Linked DNA regions of Homo sapiens: region 1 is linked to region 2. The links come from fine-mapping of genetic effects on gene expression. A gene starts in region 2. The other region holds a variant in brackets. All regions are shown on one strand. Distances are from middle to middle.

What was found. PIP is the estimated chance that this variant, and not a neighbour inherited with it, causes the effect.
Region 1: its variant is fine-mapped to the expression of ARMH1 in whole blood (TOPMed, PIP 0.97).

Annotation. Positions count from the first base shown.
Region 1 is chr1:44,716,030-44,726,824 of GRCh38, reverse strand. It overlaps ARMH1 (armadillo like helical domain containing 1), which reads right to left. Exons shown (of 12, transcript NM_001145636.2): 7 at 2,581-2,703; 8 at 2,433-2,505; 9 at 2,157-2,286; 10 at 1,986-2,063; 11 at 1,608-1,689; 12 at 1,234-1,534. The coding sequence ends at 1,422. It overlaps RNU5F-1 (RNA, U5F small nuclear 1), which reads left to right and starts at 4,923; the gene lies at 4,923-5,040. It overlaps LOC105378690 (a long non-coding RNA gene), which reads left to right and starts at 2,706. Exons shown (of 5, transcript XR_007066059.1): 1 at 2,706-2,790; 2 at 4,786-4,866. RefSeq lists a silencer at 3,094-3,388. The variant G/A (reference allele first, on the strand shown) is at 4,919.
Region 2 is chr1:44,669,536-44,680,330 of GRCh38, reverse strand. ARMH1 (armadillo like helical domain containing 1) reads right to left here and starts at 5,617. Exons shown (of 12, transcript NM_001145636.2): 1 at 5,458-5,617. It overlaps TMEM53 (transmembrane protein 53), which reads left to right and starts at 5,850. Exons shown (of 3, transcript NM_024587.4): 1 at 5,850-6,000. The coding sequence starts at 5,940. SNORD145 (small nucleolar RNA, C/D box 145) reads left to right here and starts at 9,275; the gene lies at 9,275-9,374. RefSeq lists silencers at 5,678-5,727, 5,798-5,847, 5,998-6,137 and an enhancer at 5,905-6,406.

The DNA.
Region 1 (10,795 bases), 46 kb before region 2:
GTTCCCGAGTTCTCGTCCCACGAGCCCAAGAAGAATGAGGATGCACTGGCAATTGAAGAGTGAGCAAGGTGGGGTTTTACTGAGTGATAAAACAGCTTTCGGTGGCTGTGGGGGGTGGTCCCCCTACCTGAAAGTGGGAAAGTCCCCCTAATATGGCTGAGTCCAGGGCTTCTATGGGCTCAGAATGGGGGAAGGGCAGGCCATAGGTAGTATTGGAAAAGGCAACATTCAATTGGTTAAAAGGCATTATTCAGAAAGAATCAATCAGGAAAGGGCAGGCAAACAGAAACAGAAGTTCTCACTCTGGGTTGTGGGTTTCATCCAGGACCAGCAGTCGGTCTTTCAGCCTTCAGGCTGTTTTTGGTTTGAAGGTGGGGTTCACTGGGGACCCACCCCTATCTGCCTAGGCATTTGGCTGCCTCCTGTTGCTATCTCCTAGATCAATGAATAAAGCTTCTGCTCTGCTTTATGGAACCTGGCCTTGTTCTATTGGTGCAAATGGTTCCAGGCAAGGAAAGGACCCATTAGGATCAAACGACCCCCTTTAATGTCTGTAACAACCGGAGAAAAACCAGGTAGGTAGGGTGTTCTGGAGGAAAGGGTGCATAGGCCATCAGGGAGTGGAGGTGAGGCCCTCTATTCAGGCTATGCCCTTGAACCTTCTAGGGTGTTGGTGGCCCTTCCCTCTGGATCTGCTTTTTTTTTTTTTTTTTTTTTTTGAGAATGAGTCTCACTCTGTCGCCCAGGAGGCTGGAGTGCAGTAGTGTGATCTTGGCTCACTGCAGCCTCTACCTCCCGGGTTGAAGTGATTCTCCTGCCTCAGCCTCCCAAGTAGCTGGGATTACAAGTGTGTGCCACCACACCCGGCTAATTTTTTATTTTTTATTTATTTTTTAGTAGAGACGGAGTTTGACCCTGTTGGCCAGGCTGGTCTCGAACTCCTGACCTCAGGCGATCCGCCCACCTCAGCCTCCCAAACTGCCAGGATTACAGGCGTGAGCCACCGTGCCCGGCCTGTTTTTGTGATGGGGTCTTGCTTTGTTGTCCATGATGGCTTCCAACTCTTGGGCTCAAGAGATCTTCTTCCTTCAGCCTGCAGAGTAGCTAGGATTACAGGTGCAAGCCACCGTCCTAAACTTGGACCTGCTTTTTAACTTGAGGAGCACAGGCACCACAATCTAGCATCATAGCTCTCACTTGACCTCCCTTCCCCCTCCACACACACAAAGAACAGACAGGTATCAAGGCTGTTTATTGACTCTTCGCAGCCAGCGGCTCTTCCTCTGCCCCTCTGGGATGCCTAATCCCCGTCTCCCCCCTGGAGCCAAGTGGAGTGGCTCTGAGCTTGACCCCAGGCGCCTTCCTCTTGCCAGGCTTCCCTGCCCCGCAGCCTTGGCCTTCCTGGTTTGCCACAGGGGCTGTTACTCCTTTGATTCTACATCCTCCTCGAAGTGTGTGAGGTAGGCCATCTGAGCCGAATCGCGCGAGCCATAGAGAGTGTTCATGCTGTAGGAGCTGCCATGGAGGCACAGGGCTGCAGGCAGGAAAGGCGGGCGTGAGGCTGTGCTGGCGGCGCCTGCGCCCGGCTTCCCTCGTCCCACACTCACCTTTGGTAACATTGACTGTGTTGGCCGCCAAGATGTCCGCCTGAATGCTGTCTATTTTCATGTACAAGTCCTCAGCGTTGCTCTGAGGACAGGAGCAAGGGGGACCCGGCTGGGGTGCCAGGGCAGTCTGGACTTGGAGTTGGGCTTGGCAGAGGGATGTTGCAGGTGGGGGGCGGGTCGGCAGCCTGACCGAAAGGGCAGGAAAGGGAACAGGAAGGTGGCGGGTGGAGGAGCCTACGCCAGAGCAGTCCCTCCTGCAGCTGGTGGCCAGGTCCACTCTGCATGTGGCGCGCTCCAGGATGGGGACTGTCTGAAGGGGCATCACACTGTCCGAGCCGCCATCTGCTCATTGCGGCGGGGCAGGAAGGGCGCACTTACCAGGAAGAGCTGGTAGAGTTCCTCCCCCATGCACTTGCGCACGTGCTCCGCCACCAAGGGGAACATCTGCACGAAGCACTGCGCCGCGCGGGCGAGGCGGCGTGACTGCGGGGGCGACGGGGCTGCGGGTGCCGCCGCCCTTCCCGCCCCCTAACCAGCCGCCGCGCGCACCTCCAGCGTGAGGCTGGCCAGCCGCTGGCTGTTGCTGTGGTCCGTGTTGCCCATGGCGGCCATTAGGCCACGCACCACGCGCAGGTACAGCAGCTCCTCGGCGATGCTCATGTCGTTGCGCGCCAGGACCCTGGGCCGGGGGTTCGGGCTGGGGCGACGCCCTGGGGCTCACCCGGCGCACACCCCCGCCCACCCGGCGCACGGAGCGCTCCCGGGGCCCGCCGGCAGCGCCAAGCCAGGCTTGCTGCAGCTACCCACTAACCCCTGCCCGCTTACCCGATGGCCTTGGCGGCCGCGGCCTGCTGCAAAAACATCGGCAGGCTGGGGGTGAGCTGGAGAACCGAGGGGTCTGAGGAGGGGGCAGCCGTGAGGCAAGAGACCGCCCTCCCGTGGCCCAGGCAGCCCCATTTGAGCAGGTCCTTACCACTGAGGATCTTGGCCTGCAGTTTGGAGATCTCCTTGACCGACGGTATCAGCAGCGCCACGAGGCCCTTGAGCAGCGCCTGGCGCACATCGTAACCGACCAGGTCTTTGATCAACTCGATGGCTGCGGAAGGGCAGAGGTGCTGGAGAGAGGCCCCAGGCCCCTCCGCCACCGAGGAAGCAAAGAACCCCGTGAACCAAGTCGCCACTCGTCAGTGTCCTCCTCTTTTACTGATCAGCACTGTGCAGGGCGTGGGGGAGCTGGGAAGGCGAACCTCAGTTGAAGAGCAGGAGGAGGGGGCTGAAGGGGGAGGAGGAAGGGTTGGATGGTGAGCCCACCTGTCGAGGCGGCCTAGGATGTCAGCGCTGGAGGCTGAGACCCCAGAGAGGGGGGCCTTCGCCTTGGAGGAATCCAGGTTTCATGGAGGAGGGAAGGGCTGGGTCTTTACGGGAAGACAAGATGGAGAAAGACAAGGGGTGAGAGGGAGACAGAGAAAGTGGGTGGGAGACTTGTGGCAGGAAATGAGAAAGGGGAAGGAAGGTAGGCGGCAGTTTAGAGAAACTCTCCTTCTAACCATCATCGAGCCCTCTCCACCAGGCAGGGTGCCAGGCTTTCCATACAGCACCCGTGGAAGCTCACCAGAACCAGATGAGGTTCACTTCCCCATTTTACCTTTGCCGAAATTAGACACAGAGAGGTAAACCACTTTGCCTAAGTTACACAGCTAGGAAGTGATGGAAGCAGAAGGAGGGGAGGATTTGGTTAGGAAGGAGAAGGGGACTAGAATTTATGGAGGGCATTTCCTGCAGGGCTTTCCTGTAGATATTTTACAGGCAGTCATTCATTCAGTCCAGCATTCACTCAGTCTTTCGGCACGGCTGCATGTGAACGCCTATGGTGCCAGGCGCGGCATTGGGTGTTGAGGATACAGACTGAATTCATTCATTCGACCAACCCTCCTTAAGCGTGCACAAACAGGCAGCGATGATATGGTGACAGGTGCTGTGGAAGGAGTCAGTGATTGGGCTGTGGGAGCACAAGAGAAAATCGGCAAGGATTGAATGTTTTTGTAAAGAAGAGAAAGGAACCACAGAGCTAGAGGGGGCAGGAGGAGAAGGAGATGCTAAGATGATGGCACACCAGCATAAATGCTACCTTTTTTTTTTTTTTGAGACAGAGCCTCACTCTGTCGCCCAGGCTGGAGTGCAGTGGCGCGATCTCGGCTCACTGCAACCTCCGCCTCCTGGGTTCAAGCAATTCTCCTGCCTCAGCCTCCCGAGTAGGCTGGGATTACAGGCGCCCGCCACCACACCCGGCTAATTTTTTTTTTTTTTTTTTTTTGTATTTTTAGTAGAGATGGGGTTTCACCATCTTGGCCAGGCTGGTCTTGAACTTCTGACCTCGTGATCCACGCGCCTCGGCCTCCCAAAGTGCTGGGATAGCAGGCATGAGCCACTGGGCCCGGTGGGCCCAGCCAGTAAATGCTAGTATTTTTGTTTGTTTGTTTTTTTGAGACGGAGTTTCACTGTCATCACTCAGGCTGGAGTGCAATCGCTCACTGCAACCTCTGCCTCCCGGGTTCAAGCGATACTCCTGCCTCAGCCTCCTGGGAAGCTGGGATTACAGGCGTCTGCCACCACGCCCGGCTGATTTTTGTATTTAGTAGAGACAGGGTTTCACCATGTTGGCAAGGCTGGTCTTGAACTCCTGACCTCAGGCCTCCCAAAGTGCTCAGGCCTCCCAAAGTGCTCCCAAAGTGACCGAGAACTCCTGCCTCGGCCTCCCAAAGTGCTGGGATTACAGGCATGAGCCACCACGCCTGGACTTTTTTTTAAATTTAAATTTTATTTTTTTTCTGAGACAAGGTCTTACTCTGTCGTCCAGGCTGGTCTTGAACTCCTGGGCTCAAGCGATCCTCCTACCTCTGCCTCCTTAAGTGCAGGGATTACAGGTGTGAGTCACTGTGCACCGGGCACTGCTACTCTGAACACATGTGGCTACATGGAAGACAGGACTTGGCCATGTGCTCTCCCCAGCTCAGTAGTCAAGTGCCTCTCTCCATTTACTGGTAAGAGAGAGAGGGTTTAGAGGAACTCTTGTTCCGGCGCTCAGCTCATTTGCATCCCAGAATGCATTGTAGATACGAGAATTATTACCAGGGTTATCTGTTTGAATAATAATATTTAAACTTTTTTTCTTTGTCAGGAGATTTTACCCAGTGAGAACATGTTTAGGACACTTTTCTACAGTGGAAGAAAAGCTTCTGTCTGCAGGTCCAAAGGCACCGTAAGTAGAGGGAGACCAGTCAATAGCTGGGAAGCCAGGCAAAAGGCTAACA[G/A]GCAGATCTCTGGTTTCTCTTCATAACGAATAAATCTTTCGCCTTTTACTAAAGATTTCCGTGGAGAAAAACAACTATGAGTTTATGGTTAAATTTTTTGAAGTCTTGCCTAGGCAAGGCTGAATGTTCTGTTACTAAAGAGAGACGTGTGGGTGGGGTGTTTCATGCTTTGGGAGGTTGGGGTAGCTCCACAAATGTCACCCAGGTTGTAGCGGAGTGGTGTGGTCGCGGCTCACTACAACCTCCATCTCCCATGCTCAAGCAATCCTCCCACCTCAGCCTCATAAGCCTGTCTAATTTTGTGTACTTTTTGTAGTGCCCGGCCTACTGTCATGTTTTTTTAGCTTCTTGTAAACATTTAGGAAGCTAAATGTTTATAAGATTTTTTTTTTTAAAAGAAAACCTAGTTTTTGACAGTCTGTATCTAATAATTTGGCTGAAGTCTTGTGAGTCTTTCTAGTGTGCTAGTTCCAATTTATAGTGATGACTTTGTGTGCATGATTATCTTATACTTTGGACTGGTCTCATATTTGAAAAATTAAGTGTAGGAAAAACTTAAGAGTTAGGATGATGATACTTTCTTCCAGAGATAGTTTTCTTTTGTTTTTATCAGGTACCTGGGGACACAAACAATTCTGGACTACCTTTGTCCACATTCAACACTTGAGGTTCTCTGGACCACCTGGTAGTTATATAATCCATACAAGACCACCTGAGGGCCGGCTTACTTTTGGCCCACCTTGACCTTGAGGGTACTGTCTTCTGGGGTCCAACTTAAAGTATGTATGCTAGAGGTATCAGACTTCCCACCGAGAGCAGAATCTCAGTGCCTTCTCTTTCTTTTGCCCTTTTTTTGTTTTGTTTTGTTTTGAGATGGAGTTTCACTCTGTCACCCAGGCTGGAGTACAGTGGTACGATCTCGGCTCACTGCAGCTTCCACCTCCTGGGTTCAAGGGATTCTCCTGCCTCAGCCTCCCGAGTAGCTGGGATTACAGGTGCGCACCACCACGCCTGGCTAATTTTTGTATTTTTTAGTAGAGACAGGGTTTCACTATGTTGGCCAGGCTGGTCTTGAACTCCTGACCTCAAGTGATCCACCTGCCTTGGCCTCCGAAAGTGCTGGGATTACAGGTGTGAGCCACCACGCCCGGCCTGAGAAGTCTTCTTTATCTGGCTATTGCTACTCATTCTTCTAGGCTCAGCTGAGAAATCAACTTTCAGGAAGCTGCCCCTGGCCTGCTCTCCTCTGCCTTCACTCTTCACTCAGGAGTAGATGTCCTATGTCTCTGAACCCGTAGCACCGTATAGAATTCTTGCTATAGAATTCTAGTACTATCCACTAAATGGTCTCCTCACTAGTGTGTGAACTCCAATGAACATATCTGACACATCTCACTTCTGTTTACCTAGAGCCTGAAACCATTCCATGTACACAATGCATGCTCCATACATCTTGTTGAAAAGACCTCATTGGATTCTGCATTCCAACAGGCGAGGCTTGGGTCATGGCAGCCTAGGACCACGCTTAGAAACCACCAGCCTGGTGGTGGATGACCCCAGAGGAGGCTCTGCAGTGGCCACTGTGGTCCTCATTCACACAGCTACAGAACTTTCCTAGCTTGAATCTTGGACAGGCTGGAGAGCCAGAACTGTGGCAGCTGTCTCCCCGTATACCCCATGGCCAACTTTTTTTTTTTTTTTTTTTTTTTGAGACAGAGTTTTGCTCTTGTTGCCCAGGCTGGAGTGCAATGGCACGATCTTGGCTCACTGCAACCTCTGCCTCATGGATTCAAGCAATTCTCCTGCCTCAGCCTCCCAAGTAGCTAGGATTATAGGCGCCCGCCACCACACCTGCCTAATTTTTTTGTATTTTTAGTAGAGACGGGGTTTCACCATGTTGGCCAGGCTGGTCTCTAACTCCTGTCCTCAGGTGATCCACCCACCTTGGCCTCCCAAAGTGTTGGGATTACAGGCGTGAGCCACTGCACCTGGCCCCATGGCCAACTTTGAGAGTGCTTTGAAGCCAGGACCTTATACTTCTTGGCCACCCCAGAACTGGGCACCACTCTATGGATGCTCATATCATACAACCCAGGCACAACAGAAAGGGGAAGAGTGTGGTCCTTCTCACAGTGGGAGACACAGGGCACCTGGTGAGATGGTCAGAGATGTGGACTGCGTGGATTTACAGAGCACACAGAACAGGTCTCTGCTTCAGCTCCTGCAAACTTTACTTGTTTAACTCCAAACAGACATATGCTGCCTAAAAAGGAACACATGCTGGCGATTTCTAACTTTGTCAGAAAACTATCATTGATGATTTCCAAAAGAGCAGTGGTCTGGGAAGGCAGAGGGAGCAGCCACATCCTGTGTGCTGCAGGCTGCATGCTCAGCTCTCCTGGGTGCTGAAAACACCGGCGGAGGGATGGGGAGCTGACTTCTCCACTCCAGGGCTCAGAGTGCCCTTCGGCAGGAAGAAGAGAATGAGTTTTGGCTGGTGTGTCAATCTAAGGAAAGGCATGGAAAGGCTACTAGTAGAGAACCAGCCTGCCTCCTCGAAATTGCCCTTGTGCCAGATCCTGCTCTCCTCTGCCTCTTGCCCATCATCCTCAGGCTCCAGAGCCTTGAGGCACACTAGAGGGGGCCTGGTCCTGAAGCCCTATAAAAGCTAGTTTTGTCTCATCCTGGTTTTCCCAATCACAGAATTAAAAAATCACCTGGAGGTGGAAGATCTTCAAAGACATCCTGTGCTACCCCTTCCAGTACTTATTCACCCTTTGGGGGACAGACCTTGTGGGGCAGACCCTTTCCTCTGAGGACCTTCCTGATTTAGAAATAGTGGCTTCATTCAGAAATGCCTTTTTTTTTTTTTTTTTTTTTTCCGAGACAGTTTCACTCTTGTTGCCCAGGCTGGAGTACTATGGTGCGATCTTAGCTCACTGCAACCTCTGACTCATAGGTTCAAGTGATTCTCCTATCTCAGCCTCCCAAGTAGCTGGGATTACAGGCATGCACCACACTGGCCAGCTAATTTTTTGTATTTTCAGTAGAGACGGGTTTCTCCATGGTGGTCAGGCTGGTCTTGAACTCCCGACTTCAGGTGATCCGCCTGCCTCGGCCTCCCAAAGTGCTGGGATTACAAGCATGGGCCACCATGCCCGGCCCAGAAACGCTTCTTATGACCAACCAGCCACTGCTGCTGGGCTGCCTCTTTCTTCTAAGTCTTCTAAGGTAGCCCTCGCAATCCCATCTGCCCACCCTCTGCAGCCTCTGGTTGCCCAGATGTGGTCCTATTTTGGAATCAAAGGCCCAGCAACATTGTGGAGGGAAAGGGACCAGCCCCGGGAAGGGGCAAAGCACTTGAGCTTCCCTGGCTTCCCCCAAACACTCTCTGATCTGGACAAAATGGCAGACCGGACATCTCTGGCTGCTTGGCAGCCGTAGCCTGCACCGGCTGCTGCCTGAAACCCCAAAGTATTTCTCACTTGTTCTACCATTTGGTTTCTTCCCTCTTCTTGAATTGGTGCAGCTCATTTTTTTGGAGCCAAGTGGTCTGGCCCCTCATGCATCTGATGACACTTGGCTTTGTCGCCTGCAGCACGTCCCTCATTAGTAGCTGGGCTCTTCCCAGGCACAAGCTGGCAGTGCGTAATGCCAGGACATCCTGGGCAAATGTCTGCCTGTGCCCAAGAGCTCTTCCTGCAGCAAGACATGACTTGGTGGACACTCAGGGTAGAAACGAACAGGTGAAGATATTTTTATGAAAATTTCTTGACCACAAATAGCATTTTCTGCCCATGTAGAACCAAATACTCCAGGAGACAAATGTCTAGTTCTGACTATTCACTTTACCTAAATGCTTAATCTTTTGCTAATTATGTATTTGTAACACTTGGAGCTACTTAGAAAAATGAAGATTTATTCACTGAATCATTTCTGACTGAGTTTTAAAATTCACAGCTGTCACTGTTTATACCCAAAGTGAAAGTACTGGTCTCTGCCCAAATGTCTTCACAGGAACCACAGCCAGTTACAACTCTTTATATATCGTGCTAGTTACTAGGAAGGGCAATTCCTTCAGAAAGCAAAGGACAACAAAAGACTATCTTTGGCAGCTTTGCCTAAAGCCTGTGGTGCTGATAACACCCAAATGTCCTAAAGCTGAGCAATCACTGATTTATTCATTGATTCATTCATTTATTTAACAAAATTCTCATTGAGCATCTTGTCTGTGCCAGGCCTCTGGGCTAGGGCTATGAAGAGGACTAAGATCTAATCACTGGCCTTAGGGACATCACAGCTGAGTGGGGGATACCAATAGGGAAACTGGCATTTATGAGGCAGTGTTATCAGGGCCATGGGAACACAAAGGAAGCCAGGTTGGTTGATGGAGTGGAGATGATAGGGGATGGAGAATCAGGAGAAGGATTCCTTGGAGACGGTGATGCGTGAATTGGCAAAACCATAGGGAGAAGGGAGGGGCTGGAATGTAGAATGTGGCAAGTGCCATGTTGGATAGTGCCATGTCACATTTGTGGCCAGGCAAGGGAGATCTGGCTGGGAAACAGGGATGCTGGGTCATGCATCAGAGCTAAGCCTGTGGAGGCAGGCCAGCCCCAGCTTCTGCAGGGCTATGCATGTGCCAACAACCCGATACAGCAGGCATTTTTCTCATTTCATTTCAGAGAAAAGGAAGGCTCAAAAAAGTTGAGTAGCTCGCTCAGGATCAGATAGCTAATAAGAATAGTTCTGATTTCAGGCCGGGCGCGGTGGCTCACACCTGTAATCCCAGCACTTTGGGAGGTCAAGGCGGTTGGATCACGAGGTCAGGAGTTCACGACCAGCCTGGCCAAGATGGTGAAACCCCGTCTCTACTAAAACTACAAAAATTAGCTGGGCGCAGTGGCAGGTGCCTGTAATCTCAGCTACTTGGGAGGCTGAGGCAGGAGAATATCTTTTACCTGTGCAGCAGAGGTTGCAATGAGCCGAGATCGCGCCACTGCACTCCAGCCTAGGTTACAGAGTGAGACTCCGTCTCAAAAAAAAAAAAAAAAAGAAAAAAGAATAGTTCGGATTCCAAATCCCATATTCTTCACCACTAAGTCTACTGCCTCCACTCTGGTGGTGGACTAGGAAAATGAACTGTGTGTGGGCGCCATACTGGACAGATGAAGATTGGTGTAGAGGCCAGTGCAGGTGAGCAGTATGAAGACCTGAATTACAGCAGTGGAGACAGAATGGGGAAGAGGGAACGCATCTGCATATTGAAGAGTTAGAATTGACTGGTCTTGTTAGAAGTTGGTTGAAGGTGGGAAGCAAAAAGACAAGACAATTACCAATATTTCTAGCCTGGGCAGCTGGGTACTTTCCACTGAGATTGGGACCTTGGAGAAGAAAAGCTTTGGAACTGGAATATCAGAAGTCCACTGGTGACATCTGAGGGGAGGTGTTCAGAAGGCAAATGGACACACAGGTCTAGAGCTATAGAGAGGTCACTCCACTACTCTGTCCTCCATCCATAAAATGGGGAAAATAATAGTGCCCACCTCCTTGGCTTGCTGTGAGGGGTAAATGAGTAAAGATCAAGGGCAGTATCCAGCATAGAGTTAACACTCTATAAAGATTAGCGACTATTGTTTCTGTCATCAAGGTGGTAGGTGGTACATAAAGTCGTGGTAATTAAAGTTGTGGGAGCGGACGAGGTGCCATAGACAGCAAAGAAGGAGAAGAAGACCTGGAGTTGAATGCTGAAAAAAAAAAATTGACACCTAGGAGACTGGTAGAGGAATGGGAATGTATAAAAGACCGAGAAGCAGTTTCTAGAGCCATAGGAGGAAGCCAGGAGAGTATGGGTTTGGGAAGGAGGATGAGAGTATT
Region 2 (10,795 bases):
GTGGCACGCGCCTGTAGTCCCAGCTACTCGGGAGGCTGAGGCGGGAGAATCACTTGAACCTGGGAGGCTGAGGCTGCAGTGAGCCAAGACCGTGCCACTGAACTCCAGCCTGGGTGACAGAGTGTCTCAAAACAACAAACAAACAAACAAACAAACAAACAAACTTGGCCCCAATCTAACTTCATCTCTAGTCACTTCCACATTACAACAACCTTGCACTCTCAACTCCCCAGGCCCTTCCAGGGCCCTCTGCATCTCAGTGTTGCTCTGCCATCAGGAATGGCCAGGTTCCTTTTTGCCCTTTGGCAAACTCCCTGGGACAACTAGGGGTTTGCAGCTCTGGTCCCATCCATGCCACCTCTTCCTCTAATATGCTTTAAAACTTACCCATCCTTCCCACTAGAGTGTGAGTTCCTCAAGGGCAGGGGTTGGTCTTCCCTGTCTCTGTGTCCCTAGGACCTGGCATAATGCCTGGCACAAAACAGATGTTGAATAAATGCTCGCTGAGTGAATGTGTGAAGAAATCACCCAGCTCCTGTTGAGATGATTATATCTGAATGTCCATGATATGCAGGTCCATAAAACTACCAACTTCCCAAAGCTGCCATGTGCGGAGTGGCAGAATCTCCATCCAAGAAGGCCAGTGCAAAGTCTACGAGGTGTTTTACAGCTATGACAGGAAACAGCAATGTCAGCAGCGGTGTCATCTTTGGACACTAAGGACAGGGATTCAGTGCCATGAACGGTCAGTTAAATTGTAATTGGAGTGAACTGTTCTTCTGTAAACCATAATGTTATTTAGCTGCAGCCAAATGGCATTCAAGAAGGGGAGAAATTTTTTTTGAAATGTCACAGAAATTATTTCCAATTTGGTGCTCACAACCAGAGACTCTAATGATCAGTGGAAATGAGAAGCAAACAAATTAGCACTAATGGAAAATGGCTTTTGGAAAAGAAGATTTAATTTATAGTCAACTGATCATGGCATGCAGCATGCAGTAAAAGTCAGCTTCACCAGCTTGATCATAAGAACTGGAGCACACATGGAATGCCAGAGAAAAATATATGTATGCCATCATGCTTATTGGGATCTCTCTGTAAGTGGCAGCCAATTAAAATAGTCATTATTTTACCTCAGAGAGAAAACGGTGCAAAAAATCAAGCACGCGAAATTAAAAATCCAGATTAAGAACCTCGGTCCAAATTGGTTTGTTTGTGGCCTTCTAACCTTGGCAAAGTCTTCTGCAAGGATAACAGACCTACTTTGTCTTCAGCCCAGAGTGGACTCTTTGTTTTTAATTTCCTCTCCATCTTCAGAGGTGATTAATAAATCTGGACTCATCCATAAATCATTTCTATAGTGGCCAAATGGTTCTTCTTCATGCAGGGAAACTAAAATCACACAATCTCAAAAGCCTCAGCTCTCATGCTAAGCCAAAGGTCCTTGGCAACAAGCGAAGGGGAGGTATTAAAAATCAAGAGGTCAATAGGTCTTGTTTCTAAATAAAATTTCCCAGAGGGCTTCCCCACCCCCCCGGCAAATCAAAAGACACCTTCTGAAAGCAAAGAGGCCTCCAAGGCATGGGTTGCCAGCCTGGCTCACTGTCCCCACATGGCCTCGGAGACAACAAGCAAGTCACTGCCTCCTATTCCTGTAGGTTTCACATGTAGAATGAGACAGGCCTTCTCCTTGGGCTCCCGTCCCTGACTCCTAACTCTCAGTTCTCCATTCAGAGATAGGGAGAGAGAAACATTATCTCCTCAAACTTCCAAACAAGGTGTCCTTATTTCTCTCCCAGGGGCATATGCACTCCAATTTGTCACTTCCTTCTCATGGACCCTCTTCTGCTCCCCAGTCATACCCTGGCAGATACCCCTACCCCTGCTACTCATCACTTCCTGGTAGACTCCATCTGCCCCCACCTTTTCCTCACATCTGTCCATTTTCTCCATCCTCTCCCCACAAGAACTCCTTTCCCCCATCTCCTTCCTATGAAATCCTCTGCCTTCATCTTCTCCCCACTTGCCCTCATTCCTACCCACAGCCCCCACTCTTCTTCTCCCCAGACTCACTTCTGCCTCCAACACTGCTCCACAGACCTGCCCTCATCCTCTCTCCACAACATGTAACTGGCGAGGTCAACCACACTCTCCTTGCCCCTTCACTGCTCTATGCTTCATCTTCCTCGACCCATTTCCCAGCCTTCCTTCCCTTCCCAACCTTTTTACTCTGCTCTTGAAAACCCTTCTTCCCAATCAGCTAAGTCTCCTCCATCCTCAGCCTCTCCAGTCACCTGCCCACCTCCAGCCTGCATCCAAAGCTGGCTCTACCCCAGGGCTCCCCTTCTGCATGGCCCTCCTGGTAGAATCTGTTTAGATTCTTACACCCCCAGGATTTCAGGTTTAGGAGGGGGCCTCATGTCTCCTTGCCAAAGCCCAACTCAGTTCCTTATTCCACCTCCTTCTTGTAAAAGCCCTTACTACTTCAAGGGTCATACCATTTAGCTGTCTCAGCCTTTGCCCCTCCTCATGCTGTCACCTAGAGACTCCAGAAAAACCTGCTCTGCCCATCAGAGACTGGTACCTAGCTCACGGGCATCCTCTTCCCTTCCCTCCCCTCAAGTCTTTCTATCATCCAGGGGGAGTTCAGTGGCCACATCAGCATCCTGACTGTCTCCTGTACTCCACTTTGGTCACTGACTCCCACGGCCACACAGTGGACCTTGTCATCACCGGAAACTACTCAAACTTCATTCTTCCACTTTCTGATCACAACTCCCTCATTCAATGATCTCAGATGTGGATTCTCTGACTTCACTGGGACCTCTAGTCCATACATTTTTTTTCACTCTCCTATCCAGTTTAGATACTAAGGCCCTTCATTTCAATCACTGTTTTGCCACAATCTTCAACTTCCTTGTCCTTTGTCCTTCCATTGTATCCGCCTGGTAAAACCCAAACCTAGATCAATTAAACTAACCTCTGTGTACCCACCACTAGGTGGCTGAATGTTGTTGAGGGAAAAATGCATATTACACAACCTTGCAGACTGCTGCTTCCGAAAATTAATGGTCACTAACCTCGACAGGGCCATGATAACTGCCCAGAAATCTGTTTGCTACCTTAGTCATCTCACTGCCACTCTCCAGTGCTGCTATTTTAATCTTTCTCTGCTCTTTTCAATCTCGCACACCATCTCCAATCCCACTCTCACTGGCTGATATAATGTTCTTATTTGACAGAGAAAATGGAAACCATCGAAGAATTCCCTCAGCTTCCTGTCACCAAACCCACCAATTAACCTCAACGTAATGCTTCCCTTCTGCCACAAAACAAATGTTCCTCCACCCTTCTAAGTGAATTTCTTCACCAACACTTTGGTGAAGTCTTTTTTTCAAGGGCACCATTCTCAGTTATCTTCTTTCCCTTATAGTTTTATCTTTTTCCCCTTTGCTGGATCCACATCAACATTTCTTCCATCCGAATAAAAACCTGTGTTTCCTGCTGGATATTGCCTTCTTTTTTCTTCTCCTAAATAGCCAAGCTTTCTGAAAATGTATCTTACATGAATCTTCACTTCCTCAATCCCATCTGCTTCTCAAACCACTGTAATTTGACCTCTGCTCCCATCACTCCACTGAAACTGCACTTGTAAAGGTCACCAACAACTTCCTTGTTTCTAAATCCAGTGGATTCTTTCAGGCCTTATTTTACTTGATTAGTCATAAGCCTTCAACACTTTCCTTCCTTGGCTTCTGAAACACCACATACTACTACTGATCTTCTTACCATTTTGGACACTTCATCTTGATTACCTTTGCAGGTTCGTCCTCCTTTGCCAGACCCTCAAACTTGGGTGTTTCTCAGGGCTCTGTCCTAGGTCTCTTCTGACTCTACACTTACTCCCTGGGCAAGCTCAACAAATCTATTGGTGTGGCTGGCATCTATAAGGCCCCATAGACTCCCACACTGCAACTTCCAGTTAGACTTATCTGGCGAACTCCAGTTAGGCATATCCAATGGCCTTCTGGATACCTCCACTTGGATGTTCCATTGGCACCCCAAGCTCACCGTGCCCAGAACTGACCCTCTCCTAAAAACCCCTGCTTCCTCTCCTTCCTGTTTGCCCAAACCAGGAATCTAGAAGTCATCCTTCATTTCCCTTACTTCCCCCACACCCAATTAGTAACCAAGTCCATTTTTTTCTAGCTATAAGTGTCTAAGGAATTCATCCTGCCCTTTCCATTTCAGCTGCCACTCCATGCTTTGTGCCACCATAATCCTTCCCCACTACTGAAACAACCTCCTAACTGGTCTCCCTCCTTCTCCCAATCCTCAATCCAGTTCCTGCACTAATGTTTCTTTTTTTTTGAGACAGAGTCGCGCTCTGTCACCCAGGCTGGAGTGCAGTGGAGCAATCTCGGCTCACTGCCACCTCTACCTCCCAGGTTCAAGCCATTCTCCTGCCTCAGCCTCCCAAGTAGCTGGGATTACAGGTGTGCACCACCATGCCCGGCTAATTTTTGTATTTTTAGTAGAGATGGGGTTTCGCCATGTTGGCCAGGCTGGTCTCGAACTCCTGACCTGAAGTGATACGCCCGCCTCAGCCTCCCAAAGTGCTGGGATTACAGGGGTGAGACACCACACTGGGCTCTTTGTTTTGTTTTTTGAGACAGGGTCTCACTCTGTCACCCAGGCTGGAGTGCAGTGGCACAATCATGGCTTACTGCAGCTTTGACCTCCTGACTCAAGTGATCCTCCCACCTCAGCTTTCCAAGTAGCTGGGACTTCAGGCATGCGCTACCATGCCTGGCTAATTTTTAAAATTTTAATTTTGTAGAGATGAAGGTCTCACTATGTTGCCCAGGCTGGTCTTGAACTCCTTCAAGCCATTCTCCCGTCTTGGCCTTCCAAAGTGCTGGGATTACGAGTTTGAGCCACCGCGCCTGGCATGCAAAGAGTCTTTCCCCCTCCCTATCTCTAAAAGTCTTTCAAGGCCCAGCTCAAGAGCCAACCCCACTGCCATAAATGCCCCTTCTCTGATTCTGAGCTCCTCAAATCCTTACTCTTCTGTAGTATTTATCTCACACGCAGAATCAGAGTTGCTTCATGCATGGTTTCTCTCCCTCTCCCGTTAAGACATGGGAGAGGGAGGGCCAAAAGCTTGATTCTCACTAGGGCCTAAGGAACCTTATTTAGCCCACCCAGTCTCTGGCACATAGTATGTAAATATGCTGGCACATAGTATGTAAATATAGATAAATGCAAGAAAGTTGCACTCCCAGCTCCTCGGTGGGCCCTATCAACAGGGCATTCTCTAAAGTCATCAACTGAAGACTGCTTCCCATCCACCCATCCATCCATCCATCCATCCATCCATCCAGAATATGCCTCAACCCCACTGGGTGGAGGTTGGGTCGGCACGCGCCCCCTAGGCCGTTTTGTACGGTTTTATACCTCCAGCCCTCGCAGTTGCGGCTGGTAGAGGATGGCAGAGGTAGGTAGACGATGCAAGTCAAAGGGCACACTCTTCCGCCGCGTAGGATAGGACTCTGTTCGGACGAGTGACCCTGCCCATTCCCAGAATACAGCAACTCTTCAGCCGCCTCTCACCTACATGAGAGGGTGGGGACTCTTCCTGACCGGCGCCCCGGCTGACCAATACCTGATCCAGATCAAGCGAATTAGCCAATGGCTGCGGGTCAGTAATAGGGGCGGGGCATGGTTGCTAGGGCCGAGCTAGTGGGGTGAGGCGAGAGGCTCTGGAAGAGACTCGGTGGTTGCTAAGGCGGGAGGTCACAGAGCGCGGCGCAGGGATTGGGCCGTGTTGGGGGAGGTGTGTGGTGATTGGGCGGCGCCCAGGAGGCGCCCGGGTGAGGCACGGGTGCGCAAGCGGGAGTTCCGGCTGGAGACCCGTGCTCTGGGCCGGCGCCTTCACCATGGCCTCGGCAGAGCTGGACTACACCATCGAGATCCCGGATCAGCCCTGCTGGAGCCAGAGTATGGAATGAGGGTTGGGTCCAGGCGCGGGGAGGTGACCTCATGAACCTGTGGGTTGCGAGCGCAGCTGTAGCCCCGCCCCTCATGCGGCCCCGCCCTCCCTCGGGCCGCCCCCTCATAGGGTCTGGCAGGTCCTAGACTTAGAGAGGCTCAGAGAGCCCCGCCCCTCGTAAGTCCCGCCCCAGAGTGTTCCTCCCTGGCGAGCCCCGCCTCTGCCCGAGTCAGCTGCTCGCTTGGGACCTCTTTTTCTGTCTTTCCTGTCCGGGGTGCTCAGGTCCATGCCCTTTAATCACTTCTCATAGCTGAAGGCTGCCGAAAGCTGGATCCCTCCTGATTCCTTTGTTTGGGATTGGGCTTCCCACATCTAGCCTATCACTTATTATTTTCCCGAAGGCGTGGAGGGGGAGGCTCGCGGGGTCACCGATCCTCGCAGAAGCCCGGGACTCAGAACCCTTAGCCGTCCCTCTCCACTCTTCTCGGCAGTGGTTAACAGTGCAGTCTCTGCCGTCGGGTAGAACTCGACTGAAATCCTGACTCCTTCCTTTAGGAGCTGGATTACCTTTGGTAAGCTACCTTCTCTGAACTTCAGTTTCCTCCTCTGCAAAACCGGGATAAGGATAGTAACCTTCCTCATAGGGCTGTTGGGGCCATCTGGAGATTGTGTAAAGGGCCTGGCATGGAGTGAGTTCAGTAATTGGCATTTACGATCAGCATTGTTTCTCTCCTTACATTAAAGAAAGACATGTAGGATTCTCCACAAAATTAGGATTGACAGCAGGCCCGCATCCATGACAGTGTGAGTAGATCGGGGTCCAGAGAGTGGAAAGTTTGGTCTCTCTGGGAATTCTGGCAGAAGGGCCTTGAAGTATGATCAGCCTGAGGCCAGCGTGTCCCTCACTTGCATTAGTCCAGCATCGCCTTCACGCCTCCTGTCTCACTGCCTGCAGCCCAGCCTCTTAAACTGCTACCACAGTGATCTTTCTAATGCAAAGGTTTGATCTTATACTCTGCTCTCCATAAAACTTACCTCCTTAAGGAGAGCCTTCCCAGATCCCTCCCGTAGCATCTCATGTTCTTTGGTTGGAGTCTAGGAGAGGGCAGCCCTTAGACTCCCGCAGAACAGATGGCCCCAGACCAGCTGTTTTTCCCTAGAACTGGATCTGCTGGCTTAGCGCTTTTGGGTTTATAGATGTAAAAATACTTTGGACACGTTTTGGCGTCAGCAAGCCATGAAGTCAGTTAATATTATTTCCTTTGGAGAGTCTTCGGCTGCAAAGGGTTGGAGCTGCCTTCTGCACGGCCAGGAGGGCAGCCTCGTGGTCCTGGTTCACATTTCAGCTCCATGTCTTACAAGTTATATGTCTTTGGCAAGCTATTGAACCTCCCTGAGCCTGAGATTCCTCCACTGTGAAATGGGAAGAGTACTAGTGCCTACCTCCTCGTGGGATTGCGAGGGTTACGAGGTAGCGTTTGGATGTGTGTCCCTGGCACAGTGCAGGTGCTGCCATTGCATTGCTCCCCTGTGGTTCCCCCTCAGCCCCCCTTTCTTTTTTTTTTTTTAAGAGATGGAGTCTCCCCTGTCGCCCAGGCCGGAGTGCAGTGGCGGATCCCATGGCTCCCTTTGCTGCTCCAGGAGGCTGGGTCTTAGAATTGGAAGAAATCTCAGAGACTGTTTTGTCCTGCCTCCCTCTGTTGGCATGAGTGCATTCCATTGCTAGCAGACCCTTCCCTGGGGCGATGCTTCTGCCCAAACATTCTAGCCTGTTGGAGGCAGCTGGGATTGTTAGAAAGCACTTCCCTTTCTTGAGCCACAATAGGCCTTCCTGTAATTTCCGCTCTCAGTTCAGTATTTGCTGTGTCCTGGCTGTGGGATCGTTGTTGGCCACTCAGAAGTGACTCACACGCCCAAGGAGCTGAGGTTTTGGGGAGGGGAGTGAATTTATAAGCAGGTGGTTTCAAAATGGTGTGCTAACTGCAGGGCTAGAGCATTGTGGTGGGAACGATACAGAGCAAGGAATCTCTCTTCCTCTGTTCAAGAGGACAGCTTCGTGCCTTCACATTTCCTCCAAGGGAAACACCTCCACGGCTTTCAGTTGTTTCTCCTCCTTATTGCTGCTCCTGACTGGCTTTAATTCATTGCCCTTCCCTCTCACAGTCCATGCTCCAGAGGAGAGCTAGAGGTTGTCAAACCCCTCAGAAGGAGATCACGACGCTGTGGTCCCCTGAATCCATTTGCTTCCTATCTGCAGAGCTTCCCTCCAGGCCAACATGGCCTGATAGAGTGACAGTCTTTTGGAGCCCCAGAGATTGTCTGTCTTTTGCAATTACTGTTTAATGGTGGAGAAGTGTATAGGACATTCATATTTAGTTTCTGAAATTACTTTTTAAAAACTTTTTTTTTTGAGGTGGAGTCTAACTCTGTCGCCCAGGCTGGAGTGCAGTGGCACGATCTCAGTTCACTGCAACCTCCGCCTCCTGGCTTCAAGCAATTCTCCTGTTTCAGCCTCCCAAGTAGCTGGGACTACAGGCACCCGCCACCATGCCTGGCTAATTTTTGTAGTTTTAGTAGAGACAAGGTTTCACCATATTGGTTAGGCTGGTCTTGAACTCCTGACCTCAGGTGATCCACCCGCCTCAGCCTCCCAAAGTGCTGGGATTACAGGCGTGAGCCACTGTGCCCAGCCTTTAAAAACACTTTTTTTTTTCAGTTTAAAAAATTTTCATTTTCTTATATGGAGACAGAGTCTTACTGTATTGCCCAGACTGGTTTGAAACTTCTGGGCTCAAGCAGTCCTCCTATCGCAGCCTCCCAAAGTGCTGCGATTACAGGTATGAGCCACTGCACCTGGCCTGAAATTACTTTTCCCCTGTATTTGAAAAATCGAAACCACAGAGCCCATCACTGCTGTGAGCTGACAGAGAAGCTGATGCTGGCACATTAGCTAGCTGGAAGGCAGCTGCAGATCTGGGGTCATTCAGAGCCCTGGGCCTTGTAGGTCAGGCTTGGCAGCCCAACATCCTTCTGCTGGGAATCCTACCAGCCAGTACCTATTGGCTGCCCACACCGATGGTCGTCTGCCCAGGCCTTTGCTAAAGCCGGTCGTTTGACCCAGAATCTGTCTTCCCTCCTCCCTCTCTTTTTCCCAGGCCAGTGATCCCCTCAGTCTCTCAATACCCTCTCTTACTTCATTTCATTTGGGAAGGGTCTCTCCTGGGGCTCCCATAAGCACTATATTTTCCTGTTGTCGTGTTTTTGATGGCTTCACTCACTGTCACCAGGGCCTGGGAGGGATGATGTACCAAGTGAGCTGAATGGAATCACTTGGCAGCACTGTAGGCCCAAGCCAGAGCTGCTCTGACATCCCAGGCCCAGGCCGTGCCACCCCTCCTCCCATCCAGAGAATGGTCAGCCAAGTCCCACCTAGATCCCCTCTGTGACTTGCTCATAGGCCAGCAACCTTCTTAAAGGCACCGTGTGGCTCTCATGTTCAGTAAACATAAAGAAAAATTCATTCATAGAATTAATGAGTCTGGGGCCTGGTCATGGGACAAACATTTTGCTCTTAAAGTAAACAGAAGGTCTTAAGGGGATCACAGAGAGGGGAAGTGAGGGGGTTTTTGCTCCCCAGGTTTTACCGCATGCCTTTTTTGCTCATCACTGGCTGAGGTCAAAGAAATATAGACATCATTTTAACCCTCAGGAAGTTGTCTCGGACACCCAGGAGACAGTGCTGAAGGGTCTGGACCACCATGGTGGGCCCTGTGGTGGGAGAGGCTTCCTAGAGTAGAGCAGCCCAAGCTGGACCTGAAGCTTCAGGAGGGCTGACAGACCCCCATGGTGAGCAGCAGAAAGTGTGGAAGTCAAGTCCATGGCCATACCACCTTGAACATGCAGATCTCAGAAGCTAAGCAGTGTCAGGCCTGCTTGGAACTTGGATGGGAGAAAGTGCAGAAGTAAATCCCTGAAGGGGGACAGTGAGTGGCTGGAGGGAACAGGGGCCTGGCAGGAGGCCGCGCTGTGCTTTTGTGGGTGGAGAATTAGATGAAAACCTGAAGATCTGTCATGATGGACAGACCTCAAAGACCCAGGTGAAGAGAGTCGTTTGGGATTTGATCCTTGTCTTGTCTACGAGGACCCCAAAGGTCTTTTTTTTTTTTTTTAATACAGAGGAGTTGTATTTATTTTTGGAATCATGATCTCTTTTCTTTCACCTCTAGATAAGAGCCCTTTCTGGCTGGGCGTGGTGGGTCACACCTGTAACCCCAGCACTTTGGGAGGCCGAGGTTGGCGGATCACCTGAGGTCAGGAGTTCGAGACTAGCCTGACCAATATGGAGAAACCCCATCTCTACTAAAAATACAAAATTAGCCGGGTGTGGTGGCGCATGCCTATAATCTCAGCTACTCAGGAGGCTGAGGCAGGAGAATCGCTTGAACCTGGGAGGCGGAGGTTGCAGTGAGCCGAGATTGTGCCATTGCACTCCAGCCTAGGTAACGAGAGCGAAACTCCGTCTCAAAAAAAAAAAAAAAAAATAGGATGCTTTCTAAGTGTCTGCTCTATGCCAGGTGCTGGTGCTGTACTAGACCCTGGATTTGAGATCCAGGCCTCTTTGCAGGCCTCCTTTTCTCTGAATGTCTGTGGTACTTAACACTGTTAACCATGTTCTATCCACATGCCAGGCCCACCAGGAGCTCCTTTCATTATTTTATTAATCCTCACAACCACCTTGTGAAGTAGGGAGAACCCTTAATCCTGTTTTACAGATGAAGAACAGATGCTCGTGGGGAGGTAAAG